Linked DNA regions of Homo sapiens. The protein of the gene in region 4 interacts with the protein of the main gene of each other region in a pairwise test. Each region holds a gene or a part of one and is shown on either strand. Other genes may lie near its edges.

The links. Proteins that work in one complex are often made in the same cells at the same time.
Region 1: the proteins of CHRM5 (region 4) and PRSS16 interact in a two-hybrid assay, tested with the Homo sapiens proteins (one large-scale study listed by BioGRID and IntAct).
Region 2: the proteins of CHRM5 (region 4) and NPAS3 interact in a two-hybrid assay, tested with the Homo sapiens proteins (one large-scale study listed by BioGRID and IntAct).
Region 3: the proteins of CHRM5 (region 4) and ASTN2 interact in a two-hybrid assay, tested with the Homo sapiens proteins (one large-scale study listed by BioGRID and IntAct).

The regions. Positions count from the first base shown.
Region 1 is NC_000006.12:27,250,701-27,253,910, reverse strand, and holds part of PRSS16 (thymus-specific serine protease), read right to left. Parts: coding exon 3,105-3,210; intron 2,870-3,104; coding exon 2,792-2,869; intron 2,695-2,791; coding exon 2,647-2,694; intron 2,162-2,646; coding exon 1,871-2,161; intron 1,104-1,870; coding exon 962-1,103; intron 1-961. UniProt on the Homo sapiens protein: Protease that may play a role in T-cell development.
Region 2 is NC_000014.9:33,795,879-33,799,378, forward strand, and holds part of NPAS3 (neuronal PAS domain-containing protein 3), read left to right. Parts: intron 1-1,578; coding exon 1,579-1,703; intron 1,704-3,500.
Region 3 is NC_000009.12:117,412,258-117,416,189, forward strand, and holds the start of ASTN2 (astrotactin-2 isoform g precursor), read right to left. Parts: upstream 2,801-3,932; 5' UTR 2,682-2,800; coding exon 2,240-2,681; intron 1-2,239. UniProt on the Homo sapiens protein: Mediates recycling of the neuronal cell adhesion molecule ASTN1 to the anterior pole of the cell membrane in migrating neurons. Promotes ASTN1 internalization and intracellular transport of endocytosed ASTN1.
Region 4 is NC_000015.10:34,062,497-34,065,227, reverse strand, and holds part of CHRM5 (muscarinic acetylcholine receptor M5), read right to left. Parts: intron 2,586-2,731; 5' UTR 2,511-2,585; coding exon 912-2,510; 3' UTR 1-911. UniProt on the Homo sapiens protein: The muscarinic acetylcholine receptor mediates various cellular responses, including inhibition of adenylate cyclase, breakdown of phosphoinositides and modulation of potassium channels through the action of G proteins.

The sequences.
Region 1 (3,210 bases), on a different chromosome or scaffold from region 4:
TATTAAGAGGGTTAAAATATGTAAAGCCTTATAATAATAACAATAGCAAGAGGTTTATGGAATACTTACTGTAGACCTGCATTATTCTTAGAATGCTACAAATATTACCTCCTTTAGTCCTTGAAACAACCCTATGAGAGAAATATTGCTTGTATTCCCATTTTATAGATGTGGAAACAGGCATAGAGAAGTAAGTCACTTGCCCAAGTTTGCCCAAGATTACGAGTAGAAAATGGAGCTGGAATTTGAACATTTAATTTACCATATGTAGTATTTGGGACATGCTTATACTAAAAAAAAATCTGTTGTATATCTGAAATTCAAATTTAACTGGGCATCCTGTATTGTATCTGGCAACACTACCCTGGGGTCTTTGAGGAGCTGTGGTTTTGAGTACAGGAGGGACAAGGTTATATTTACAAGGATCTCTGTGGATGCTATGAAAAAGTTGGATTGTACAGAGGAAGTGAAAACCATGAGACCAGAGAAGCGGCTGGGAAGGGATCCCGGCAAGAAAGAATGGAGGTTCCCAGCAGGACAGCAGAGGTAGGCATAGAAAGCACAAGGGATGGACTACAGAGTTGTCCATGCAGAGTGAGGAGGACTCAGTAATTGACAGGCTAGCTAGAAAATGGGAAGGAAGCAACTAAAACAAGGCTCAAGTTTCTAGTCTGGTGGATGGGGAAAGGGGGCCATCCCTGGAATGGGGACACAGAGAAAGAATAGGCTGAAGGGAAGATCACTCAAGTGGAGACCTCAGTGTGTGCGTGAGGAGGCATGTGAGGGCCAAGCACATGCATACACTAGTATGGCTTCCACCTTCTCCAGCCCAACATCTGCAGGTTACACAGTGCCTGAGAGCTGGGTCGAAATGAGTCCAGACCACCTGTAAGATGACTTCTCTGGGCATAGTAAAAAGGTTGTTTGAGGGGACAAAGTTAGGGTTAGGCCAGTCACTTACAGAAGCCGAACTCGGTACATGTCTGATACAACCACTGCCGGTCACCCACACCAGACAGTTGAGGTTCTGTGCTCCTCAGCTGTGCCACTGTCTCTGCTCGGGAAAAGCTTAAACACTTCTGGCCCAGGCTGTGCAAGACAATCTAGGGAACAATGTACATACATAAGACATAAATTCCTCCTCTCTTCCCAGCAAGCCAGGGTGCAGAGGCCTATGTCCCCAGAGGTCAAAAGTCAGAAATAGAAGGGTGAGTTCCTGAGTTCTCCTGGGAGTCAGTGGTCAGAGGGGGTGGATGCCTGGGTCCTTGTGAGTTAGAGATCAATGCACTAGAAGACTGAGACCTTATTACCTGTGAGAGCTTGGGCAAGTGATAATCTTTCAGACTTCAGTTTCCTTTTCTGTAAGTGGCGATAATAATAGTGCCTATCTCTTGAGAACTTAATGAAATAATATATGTGAAGCACTTTATACAGCACTTGGTCCAGACAGTGCTGGAAAAGCGACAGCTGGATTGCAGTTGTGGATTTAGAGGCTGCAGTCCCAGGTACCTAGGAGAACCCTATCCCCAGAGATAACATTTTTTCATTCATTCTAAAAATACTAAGTGAGAATTTGCCATGTGCCAGGCACTCCTGCAGGCCCCCCAAAAGAGAACAGGACAGGATAGGCAAAATAGGTAATAATCGCAGTCTCTAACATTCGCACACTGTGTGCCAGGCTCCCAGCTGATTGCTCTACATGACCCGCCTCATTTCATCTTCCCATCGGCCCTGTGAAGTGTTATCCCCATTTTACAGATGAGAAAACGAAGTTTCAGAGAAGGTTCTCGCTTGCCCAAGATCACACAACGGAAGTGGGGCAGGAATCTTTGTCCGCTAACTCCTCCCAGCTGTGCCAGGGAGTGCTCACCTGCACCGCCCGACGAAGCCCGCAGTAGGGCGTGGAGTGGCTGCGGTTGCCCCCGCCCCCGAGGAGAAGTCCGCAGAGCTGTCGCACGCTTAGCGGCGCTCCCGTCTGCCCATCATACTGCACTACACCTCCCACCAGTGCCTGCAGCGCCCCCAACAGCTCCGCCTGGTTTTCAGCGCGGCCCAGGGGCCCGCAAGCGCTCAGCTCCGTCCGCAATGCTGCTTGAGCCGCCCCACCCGAGCGCAGCCGCCGCTCCACTTCAGCGAAGGCGACGGACACCGCCGCCCGGCACTGTGGGAAGCAAGAGGCGATGTCCGCCAAGACTTAGGCTGGGCCTCGGCTTTCCCTACCCAGGACCTGCGTCCTCCTTGGGTTCCCCACTTTCCCCTAGCGGGACTCAGAGGGTGCAGACCTAGCTCTTGGCCCAGGCCCCCGCCCCCAGGCCCCCGCCCCCAATCCCCTGCCTCGCAGCCCTCCTTCTCGGGTCTTCCCTGCAGGCCCCGTCCTCCATTGTGGCCCCGCCCCACCTTGAGCCTCACCTCCGGATAGGATTGTCCCTGCCCAAACCCCGCCCTCTCTGGGGAGCGCCTCTTTTCCTGGTGCCCCTCCTCTTCGTCAGCTCCCGCCTTCTTCCAAAACCTGCGTATTCCCCCGAGCTCCGACCTTCCTTAGACCCCGCCACGTTGCAGGTTTCGCCCTTCTCTGGCCTCCTCTTCCCTGGCATCCGAGGCCTCTTTTCCCTCCCAGTCCCCCTCGGACTAGGCCCCACCTCCTACCTCCAGGGACCCGCCGATCGCGGTGCTCATTAGGCTTCGGGATACCACCTGTGGGCGGACCGCAGAGGAAGGTATCCGGAAGTGTCAAGGGACTCCGCCCGCTGGGACCCCTCCCCGTCCCGCACCTGCTGCCCGCCATCCTTACGTCATTATACTCGGAGAAATCCAGCACGGCCCGCACCGGGGCGGAGGAGGCGACCGACGCGAAAATGAGATGGGGGAACTAAGGGAGGAGACGCCGTCAGCCTGCGGGCTGAGGGGTTGGAATCGCATATCTTTCTGCCTCTGTGTCACTTACTCGCTGTGTAATCTCGGGCTCTTGTGAGGACAGCTTGTGCAAAATTCTTTGGGCGCGGGAGGAAGGTAGGGGCGTGGTGGGAGGGTATTCCTATTATCTGAGACTGGGGCCCTGGAGTCCGAGTTCCCTCCCCCCAGCCCACCCGGAGGAGTCGCAGGACCTTCAGCCGGGCCCAGGCGGCCAAGGAGCCGGCATAGGAGCCTCCGAAGCAGATCCAGGGGCTGGAGGAGGAGATGTTAAAGAGGCGGGAAAGTGCCAGGCGGGCA
Region 2 (3,500 bases), on a different chromosome or scaffold from region 4:
ACCAGTCTTCAACCTCAAAAGCTTCAATCTCAGGCATAGAAGACCTGTTTTAGCTGACCTAAAAACACTCCCTGAAGTCAATGATAAAGGACTGTAAATTGTAGGGCAAGTGATCTGTGAGCCCCCAAAGAAGACTAAGGTAGATGGGCTTTAGCAGGGGAAACTCCACCAAGACAGCCATTTACTGGTATCACCTCTATAGGGTAAAGATCTAGTAAGAAAATGATGTGGCCCTGGCAATATAGCAACTACAGAAGTTTGGTTTTCTTTCCCACATTCTTGTCTATTATTCTTCCCTGAGCAATACTTTCACATCACTTCTTCCTGCCCAGAACCCTTGCACCCAGGCCCCAATCCAGGCTTGTCCTTCCCTGTTCTGAAACTACTGCTCCTCCAGTCTTCTTCCCATTCCCTCGTGATACTTAACAGAATTATAGACTCAGAGTATTCAGAGACAGAGTCCACCTTCCCACCATTAGTCTCATCTGATTATCTAGAGAAAGCTTTGCTGCTGAAGCTAATTCACACGAAGGAGTAAATGCCTGATAATCCATTTTAGTGAATTACCCCTCCCAGGAACATTTGCAGTTTTAGAGTAGTTACTGAAACAGTGACTCTTTACTATAGGAATTTCGCTAGAGATTAGCAAATGAGTCAGTAATCATCAATTTTAAGTCTCTGCTTGGCTAGCCATCATGGAAAAATCGAAGAGGCATTTCCCATTTTGAAGCAGGAGGATTTCCTTGTGCCTTCAGATTACAGGAGCCTACTCTCCTCATCCATCAGGTGGCCTTGGAGTGGCATTTCCAGAAGACAGGTCAAACTGACTCAACATGCTCTCTCTTCCAAAAGAGCCTTGTTTCCAAACTAAAAATAGAACAAAAATTAAGCACATTTGTGCAAGTGAGGTTAGATCCCTTCTGTTAGGGCCTCTTTCACACTGGGACTCTCCCCACTGCAATCAGATTTCCAGCTAACAAGCCACAGGTGTACACCACACGAGCAGATGAAAATGTGATTGTAATGGGTGTGTTGACAGTTTGGTAGCCATAATCCATGCATCCCAAGGTGCACCTGTGCATCTGTCAGATAGGCACCAAAGGCTCTGCTGCCCCACCAATAGCGTGGGAGCCATCTGAGCGGCTGAGAAGCTACATCAAGGGCCCAAAACAAAGGTACTGAGGCCATGGACTCATTAGGAGCCCAAGAGAAGACACGACACACCAGGAGACATGGGAATGAATTGTTGAGAGTACTTCTCATCCTCCCTTCCCCCAGGTGTACTGTCAAGCAGCACAGTTTCCTGACCCCCAGTGGTACCTGATTATTTAAAAGCTTCTCTCCATGGCTTTCAGGGATTTGGGTATTCGATCATTGCAGCAGGGTGCACCTGTGCCTTGGCACATGCAAGCCAAGCTTCCATAAAATCCCATGAAGAGCTGAGAAATGATTTCATGTTTAGTCTTTGAAACTTTCTAAACTCCAGAAGTCTGGGACAAAGAAGTGGGGGAGAAGATGGTCCAAACAAACCATGCAGAATGGGTGTCTGCACTCCTGACCAGTGCCTCCCTTCCACAGCAATCCTGAGTACAAGGACACACCCATGGACATCGCACAGCTCCCCCATCTGCCGGAGAAAACTTCCGAATCCTCGGAGACATCCGACTCTGAGTCAGACTCTAAAGACACCTCAGGTATTACAGGTATTATTCCTTCTTTTCCATGTTCTTCAGTGAAGCTTGCCCACCACGCGCAGGGGGTGGGCAACAGCCAGAGGGCCATCATCAGAGGCAAAGCAACTGGTCACATTTCAGAGAGACATATGTCACATCAAGTTATTACTGAGTGTCTGCCTCTCTCCAGACACACATATATATAATTGTACACCACTACATACCTGTATGTACTATATAGGTATATATACACACAATACATATAGATATGTAGTGCTGGATAAATACATCTGTGTGTGTGTATATATATACATATATATATATATATGTTTTTGTGTGTATATATACTCACAGAACAAAGAGATCTTTTGAGATCTGACAGATCTCTTTCTTTAAATATACAGAAAGAGATTGATTGCTATTAGCAATCACTTAATGTCAATCCACTGGCCATACAGAAGGAGCCCTGCTCTAACCTCATAGCTAGCTCTCGGCCTCTACTAAAGGCAGGTACTAGGGCCAGCTCCAAGAGAGTCTGTGACTTTGAGCCCCAAATATTCACATTCCCACCAAGCTGGGACTGAGCCTCTAAAGTAGGGTACTTAATGGCATCGATCAATGCCTCTTTCAGGGTGCTGGACTGTTACTTATTTCCTGAATCTATGCAGAACAAACGCATGCATTTTCATTTCCTTTGGGGAAGCGGACTTCCTGAGTAGTTCTTTGGGACACTGAAAATTAGTATAAAAATTTGCTTTTCATCCCATCCCCAGCCCTCTTCCAGAGACACACATAAGGCCAGGGAGCACTAAACTTGTAGGATTTTTACAGCTGCAAGAAAATCCTACACCTCTTTTAACCCTACCTCTTCTGCTACAGAAGGGGAGGCAATGACCACAACTTCTAGTCCAGGCTGCCAGTCAGGCTTCTTCCCTCCATGTTCAGACGCTGTGTTACTGGAAAAATCTGTTCTTTCAAAAATGTGGCAGCTAGGTTTTCCTGACAACCCCCTTCTTGAGGGCACCTGTGCTCCAGCATTGTAAACATGTATCCCTTCCTCCAGACCCAGCTTCAGGGAGGCGGAAGGAGGGCAGAGCACTCAAGGCAGATCTTCATTGTCCTCCTCTCCCTAAATTGCATTAATTTGAAAGTTCTTGACAAAGACATAAAAAGTTCTAGAATTGGTAGTCTCTGCCCCTTTTTAATACAGTGCATAGTTGTGAACAAAACAAAGGAAAATTCCTAGCCCATTGAGCTTATATACTAGTGGGAAGAAGAGACAAGTAAATAAAACTAAAATATACAGTGAGGTGGCAGGGTGGCTCATGCCTGTAATCCCAGCACTTTGGGAGGCTGAGGTGGGCGCATTGCTTGAGTCCAGGAGTTTGAGAGCAGCCTGGGCAACGTGGCAAGACCCTGTCTCTACAAAAAAAAAAAAAAAAAATCAGCCACGTGTGGTGGTGGGCACCTCTGGTCTTAGCCACTCGGGAGGCTGAGGCAGAAGGATCGTTTGAGCCGGGGAGGGCAAGGTTGCAGTGAGCAGTGACCACCCTGCTGCACTCCAGCCTGAGGGACAGAGGGAGACCCTGCCAAAAATAATAATAATAAATAATAAAAATAAAGATATACAGTGAATCAGATGGTGGTAAGTGCTGTGGGGGAGAATAACTTATGGAATAGAAAGGAGAGTGGCTCTCAGTAATGAACAAATATTCACCAAGGGAAAATGCAGACTCTTTAGAAAGTCACCTTGCATGCCATCATTTTTCTGTGTCACACCTTAATCCAGGTTATTTAACCTGACTTCCTGAGTATCTTTGTGGGACT
Region 3 (3,932 bases), on a different chromosome or scaffold from region 4:
TCCCCCGCATGCATCCAAAAGGCTCAGCGCTGCCAAGGAGGCCAGCCCCGTGCTCTCCAAGGGGCAGAGGGTCCCAAGCTGCCAGGCTCAGGGACCGTGCATCAGAGGAGGGGGAAGTCTCCATGTGCAGGTTGTTGCCAGGAGACTCTCAAGCAACACATGGGTCCTGGGGGAATCAAGACTTCTAATTCCTCGCTCAGGTCCTCACTCAGCTTGTCCCAGGCTCACAGGCACCCATCCTGTTTGAAAGCCAAAGTTAAAAATGGCAAAGATTGTCAGTTCCAGGAATCCCGGGGCACCTATACAGATGGTTGGAGCAGGTCCTCCATATCCTCGAAGACTTGAAATGCTCTGTGGTCCTCACTGCCAAGTCAGGCCATACCCAAGGACCGTCTCATCCCTTCACTTGAATGGCCGTTTGGGGGGCGGGAGGATTTCCACCCCTCATCTCTCAGAGTACCCCGGAGTAGAGAGATCTAAAGGATGAAGGGAGAAGGTCAGGAATGGAAGTGGTAGTGAAGGGATACCTTCTGTGTCTCTAGAAAGACCCTTCCCCACGGGGAGGTGGCAAGAGCCAGCTGTGAGCCTGAGGTTAGTCCGGCGGCGCTCTAAGGAACACCACCTCCACCCTCCTTCCCTTTCTCGGACATGGGCAGCCCCACAGGTGCACGTGGGAAGAGCTACTGGTTTGTGTGTGTCTGTGTGTGTGTGCTTGGTGCGTCGCACCCCAGAAGCGCCGCCGCGGGGAGTCCCCGAGGAACCTGCAGGACGCTCCGCTGCCTCTCCTCCCGGAACGCTCGGCACGCTCAGGTTACAGCCTGCGAGGGTGGGTACAGGGGCTCGACCCCCGAGGTTCAAGCTCAGAGCGGGAGAACCACTGGCACTCGCTCAAATCCCCAGAGGTGGTAGCATGAAAGGATGGGGAGTGGGTCACAAAAATACTTTTAACAATATCAGGGCTACCAGGAGAGTGGAGCGTAGTCCGCTGATTATTCTGTGGGTCTTTTCAGGCGAGCAAGGAGTTAACCTCGGAAGTTCAGGGATCGTAAAGGTTCTCACCTGGAAGGCCCCTCACCTGCGGTGCCCGAGGCGGATCCCGCCGAGGAAAAGACCCGGGGAAGAAGAGCTCCGGGTCTGGGCGAGCCCCTGGCGCCTCACGGGCGCTGTTGTTGGCCAGACTCCGACAACCAATAAGGCCCCGCGCCCCCAAGAGGGGAGGGGAGAGCGAGCAAGCAGCGAGCGCGGGAGAGCTAAGGGGAACAACATTTTTGTAAACGCTCTCCGAGATAATTAAGCTATCAATTACCCGGGTGGGAAATCAGCTGCGCTTCCCACAGCTCCACTGAAGGGCCGACTCCTCCGGGATTCGCGCAGGGAACCAGCAGGCAGCAAGCTGCTGGCGAACTTTTCTGATTAACTTTTCCGTTGGAGCCCCCCACCCACACCCATCTCCTCTCCTCTCCTTTTTCTTGCCTTTAAGTAATTATTATTAGCCCAGGGAGTGAGCTGCAAGGACAAACCGGCTCTCTGCCTGGAGGTGGGTAGAAAGGGAAGGCGGTAACGGGGGTAGAGGGAGGCTCTAAACGTGGAGACCTCGGAGTCGGAATCCCAGTTCTCAGCAACCACTCAAGTCTCTCCAGCCCTATTTCACAGATGGCCAGAACTGAGGCTCAGAGAAGGGAAGCGACTTGGCCAAGGTCACTCAGCCCATGCGGAAGCCACGCTTTTGCGGGTTGAGCGATTCCACACGGAACTACTCCATTCCTACTCTCATGAAAATCCATCTGGAAGGGCAGAACCCGCAACTCCGAGGCGAGAGCGAGGGGGCGGTGACGGCGGGTGGCCAGTGACGGTACCCGGAGAAGTGGGAGGCTCGACCTGAAACTGGCTTAGGATCTGGGATGCTCCGGCCCCTAGCCAGAGCACCTTCAGTGAATGGGGTCTCCGGCTTCCGGGATGGATCAAGCAGAGCTCCAGGTCGGGACTGAGAGGCAGAGGGGCAGGTTCCCACTGCGGGAGGGTTGGCACGCCCCCAGGCTCCCGCCGCGCGCTCTCCAGGACCTCCTCCCACATGCTCGTTTCCAACCACCTGTGCGACCTCTGGGCCCCTCCTCTACCCTCTGCCAACCCCACTCGGGGCAGCCCCGGGCAGGGATCCCCAGGGCGCCCCCACCCGTCCGGCATGACGCAGGGGCTCGGGGTTCCTTGGGATCTAGCGCGTGCCGGCGCCCAGCCTTACCCAGGGTGAAGAAGGGCAGCTCGGTGTTGTCCAGGTCGTCCTGCACCGCGATGCGCCCCGGCAGCTCGTTACGCACAAAGAGCAGGAGGCGCGACTCGGCGGCGGTGCCGGCAGAGCCAGGAGAGCCCGGGGACGCGGCGGCGGCGGCGGCTCCGGCCCCGGTCCCAGCCCCGGCCCCGGCGCGGGCGCCGCTCCAGCCGATGTCGCTCTCCCGCAGGGCGGGCAGTGTGGACACCGTGACGGTCTTCAGCCGGCACGGGCTGTCGGGCTCCCGCGAGGCAGCGGCGGTGGCGCCGGCCAGCAGCGGCGGCGGCGGCAGCAGGAGCAGGAACAGCAGCAGCAGCGGCAGCAGTGGCGGCGGCCCCGGGTGGAAGCAGAGCCTCGGCCGCCCCCGGAGCCCCGAGCCGGGGCCGGGGCTGAGCCGGGCGCCGGCGGCGGCCATGGCGGGAGGGGCTGCGGTGCTGCGGGCGGCGGCGGCGGTGGCGGCGGTGGCGAAGGAGGAAGAGGAGGCAGCTGCGGAGACGGCGGACGCCGAAGCGAACCAGGACGCCCGAGCTAAGGAGCGGAGAGAGCCGCTCGCCAGCAGCCCCCAGCTCCGGGCTCCGCCTCCCGATCGGCCCTGGACCGCCCCCCCGCGCCGCCTCCCGGGGCCCAGCCGCCCGTCCCCGATCTCCGGCTCCCCCCGCAGACCCCGAGCGTTTCGGAGGCTCCGCCCGGCCTCGTGCAAGTCCCAGTGGCTCCCTCCCCTTTCCCAAGATCCCCCAATTCCGCCCTCACAGCATTCTTTAGCCACAACACCCCTCCCTAAACTCCCCAAATTCCTAATACTTAGGGCCCCCTCGGGCCCCCCCAAGCCCCCCTGACTCAACCCAGTTCTCCTGGCTTCACCCCACCTTCGGCTCAACCCAGAGGCTGCACCTGGGGGCGCGCCTTGGCCCAGCCTTGCTCAAGGCCCCGCCTTCTTGGGGATAGGGAGCCCCCTGGATAGCCAAGACTTAACTTTGTCTCCCCTCAGGCCCAAGAACAAGTCCTTTCTCCAATCTCCTACCCTTTTCTAGTCTCTGAAATAACTTCCTGTAGCCTCAGAGCCCCCTTCCCACCCACTTGGCCACAACTCCTGCATTCATTCTCCCACTGCCCGCAAACCTTCCTCTCCCCTCCATCCAGGCCTTGTGCTAGCACTAATTGCTAATGGACAGAGGGGCGTCGAACTCCACCGTCTAACGCCGACCCCACAACTGACTGAAGCCGGGCTGTTCTGGCCCCCTAGCTGCCGCCCTGCAAGCCAGCCCACTCACGCTTTTTTATTTTGGATCCCTGCTCCCAGCTTGGAGCAGCTCTACTTGGCTGCTTCTGCTCTCTGTGTGAAATTCCTGAAAAGGGTGTGAGGTAGAGACCTACTATTCTGTCTGTCCTTGGCTCCCGGGTCTTTTAGATCCTCTGCCCAAGTCCCAGAGAACGGGAGTGCTCACCAATTCTTCACCTGCAGTCTTTCTAGACTCAAGTTGAGCTAGGTCCTCAGATTCAGCACCCTTTGGTCTTGGGCTGACTCTGTCTCTGACCCACATACCTGAGACCCTCCAGGGAGCGGACACCTCTGCATGGGTCAAGTGCCGTGCAGCCCCTTCCCCACTCCCCTACTTTTCTTCATCTTCCCTGTCTCTGTTTTCTGTTTCATCTCTCCATTCATTTC
Region 4 (2,731 bases):
GTGAAGGGCTCTTACACAATTAGTCTTCCTAAGAACAGAGCATAAATAAATGGGTTCAAATGGGCACAAAATAGAATGCACAATATCTGTTTAGATAAAAGAAAAAATTTCCACTGGCAAAAACTAAAATAACTGACTGTGGAGACTTGATCCATCTTTATTAGTAGAAAAGAGGCCCCTTGAAAGGACTGGGTATGACCAGGTTTCAGTCCTTCCAGACTCTGGATTCTGAGAGGAAGGATGGTTCCCTGGAGATCAGCATGGGTTCAGTGAGTACAAGGAATTGACATTGGATATGAAAGGGAAGAGCAAGACCTTCACTCAGATGTGGGGACAGGAAAACAAACCACAGTATAGTATAGACCACATAATAGCTGCATAATAGATAGTGATCAGTTTATGAAGATACATATTCTTAGAAGCCTGTTGAATATCAGTCTCGTTAACAAGTGACACTGTTGTACATTCTCCTGCTGGTTCTCACTGGCACAAGACAGCTTCATAGACACATACATATTGCACAAAATTCTATGACAGGTTTCCACAGGAAAAGGTTTCCACCTGGTCTCTGCTGTTTCCTACAGAAGGGGCATAAGTTCCCTGAGTCACTGTTCATTGTTACCCAGTGTGCTTCCTCTTGTGAAGGGCCATGAGCCTATCCCTTTACTTCATTGGCAAACTCCCCTGGCATCAAATGGCCTTGGTCATAGGCAAGAGTCATTTAATATGTCAGCAATTGCTGCAGCTATGGCCCCTTCCATTTGGCAACCAAACTTGAGCCTTTACAAAAATCTTCAAGGACTCAAAATGAGATGTCTTCTTTTTGAAAATATACAAACCAGAATCAGCTTGCTCATCCTCAGAGGATGTTGACTGTGGTCATTGTTCTTTCGAGAGGAGTTGTTGACTTTTCAGGGTAGCTTGCTGTTCCCCTGCCAGTACAACTTCTCTTCCACTTTTTTCTTTTTCCATCGGCAGAGAAGCAGCATCTTAAAGGTCTTCCTGAAGGTTCTGTTGCAGAGGGCATAGCAGATGGGGTTGACAGTGCTATTGACATAGCACAACCAATAGCCCAAGTGCCACAGGGTGACTGGGACACACTTGTCACAGAAGGTAGAAACCAGGACCATGATGTTATACGGGGTCCATGTGATGATGAAGGCCAGGAGAATGGCACTCAGTGTCTGGGCTGCTTTCCTCTCTTTGACTAGGACCACTCTCTTTCGTTTGGTCATTTGATGGCTGGGGTTGGGATTGAGGCCTTTCGTTGAAGGTTCCTTGGCCACTGGGAAGGGGCAGGGCATGATTTTCACCTTGTGACAGCCATTGTTGGTCTCCTGGTTCCCGTCAGCTTTTACCACCAATCGGAACTTATAGGCCACACATTTCTGACTCTTGGGTCTATGAGCAGCTGCTGGAGACAGAAGGTAGTTTGGGGTGTCATAGTCACTTTTTTCAGTTTCAGCTTTCACAAAAGTTTCCTCAGTCTCTTCAGCACTGAATTCTTCCCCTGGGCTTTCCTTACCCTGACTCTTGTAGACCACTTGGAGGACAGGGTCAGTGGCGGGCTTGTCCTCATCCTCTGAGGAAGGGTAGCTGCTACAGGTGGTGAGCTGCTCAGCTTTGGCCCAATTGGCGCTTGGGCCAGTGGCTTGGGATGGCTTCCCAGTGGTGGAGGTGCTCCTGCGGGAGGATGACCAGGAGGCCTGGTTCCTTTCCCGCTGGGCCAGGGTGGGTCGAGGACAGCGCAAGCAGGATCTGAACAGAGCCCTATGAGCTGGCTTTCTCTTCTCAGCTTTGGTCACAGAGTCAGAACCCTGGAGGTCAGCCAGGTCCTTGGTTCGCTTCTCTGTTTCCCGGTAGATTCGACAGTAGAGGATGGTCATGACAGAAACAGGGATGTAGAAGGCAGCAATGGCAGTGCCAAAAGTGATGGTGGGCTCAGAGAGAAACTGGATCTGGCACTCATCCAGTGGAACTGTCCGCTTCCCAACCAAGTACTGCCAGCAGAGGATTGCTGGGGCCCAGAGGATGAAGGAGATCAGCCAGGCCAAGCCAATCATGATGCCAGCCCTTTTCGGAGTACGCTTGGCCCGATATGTCAAGGGTCTTGTGATGGAAAAGTAACGGTCAAAACTGATCACCAGAAGGTTCATGACAGAAGCGTTGCTGGCCACGTAGTCCAGTGCAAGCCAAAGGTCACAAGCCAGACTCCCGAGAGCCCAGCGTCCCATGAGGATGTAGGTGGTGTAGAGGTTCATGGAGAAGATTCCAATGATGAGATCTGCACAGGCTAAGCTGAGCAGGTAATAGTTGTTAACTGTCTTGAGCTGGCTGTTGACTTTGAAGGAGATCATGACCAAGACATTGCCCACAATGGTGATCAGGCTTACCACAGCAGTCACAGCTGCAATGGTGATGACTTCCCACAACCTGTGGCGTTCCAAAGGCTGGTGATTTACTGGGGTGCCATTGACGGTGGTTGCATTGTGGTAAGAATCCCCTTCCATCCTGGTGCAAAAATTTTACAGTAAATAGTGTTAGGTTCTAGGCTGTTTTCTATTTCAGCTCTTCTTGGCCAGCATCTGGAAGAGAGGGAAACACATTAGCTTCGCACACCAGCATGATTTTCTTGTCCATCCATTGTTTATAGTTTTTTTTTTTTTTTTTTTTGAGACAGAATCTCGCTTTGTCACCCAGGCTGGAGTGCAGTGGTGCGATCTCAGCTCTC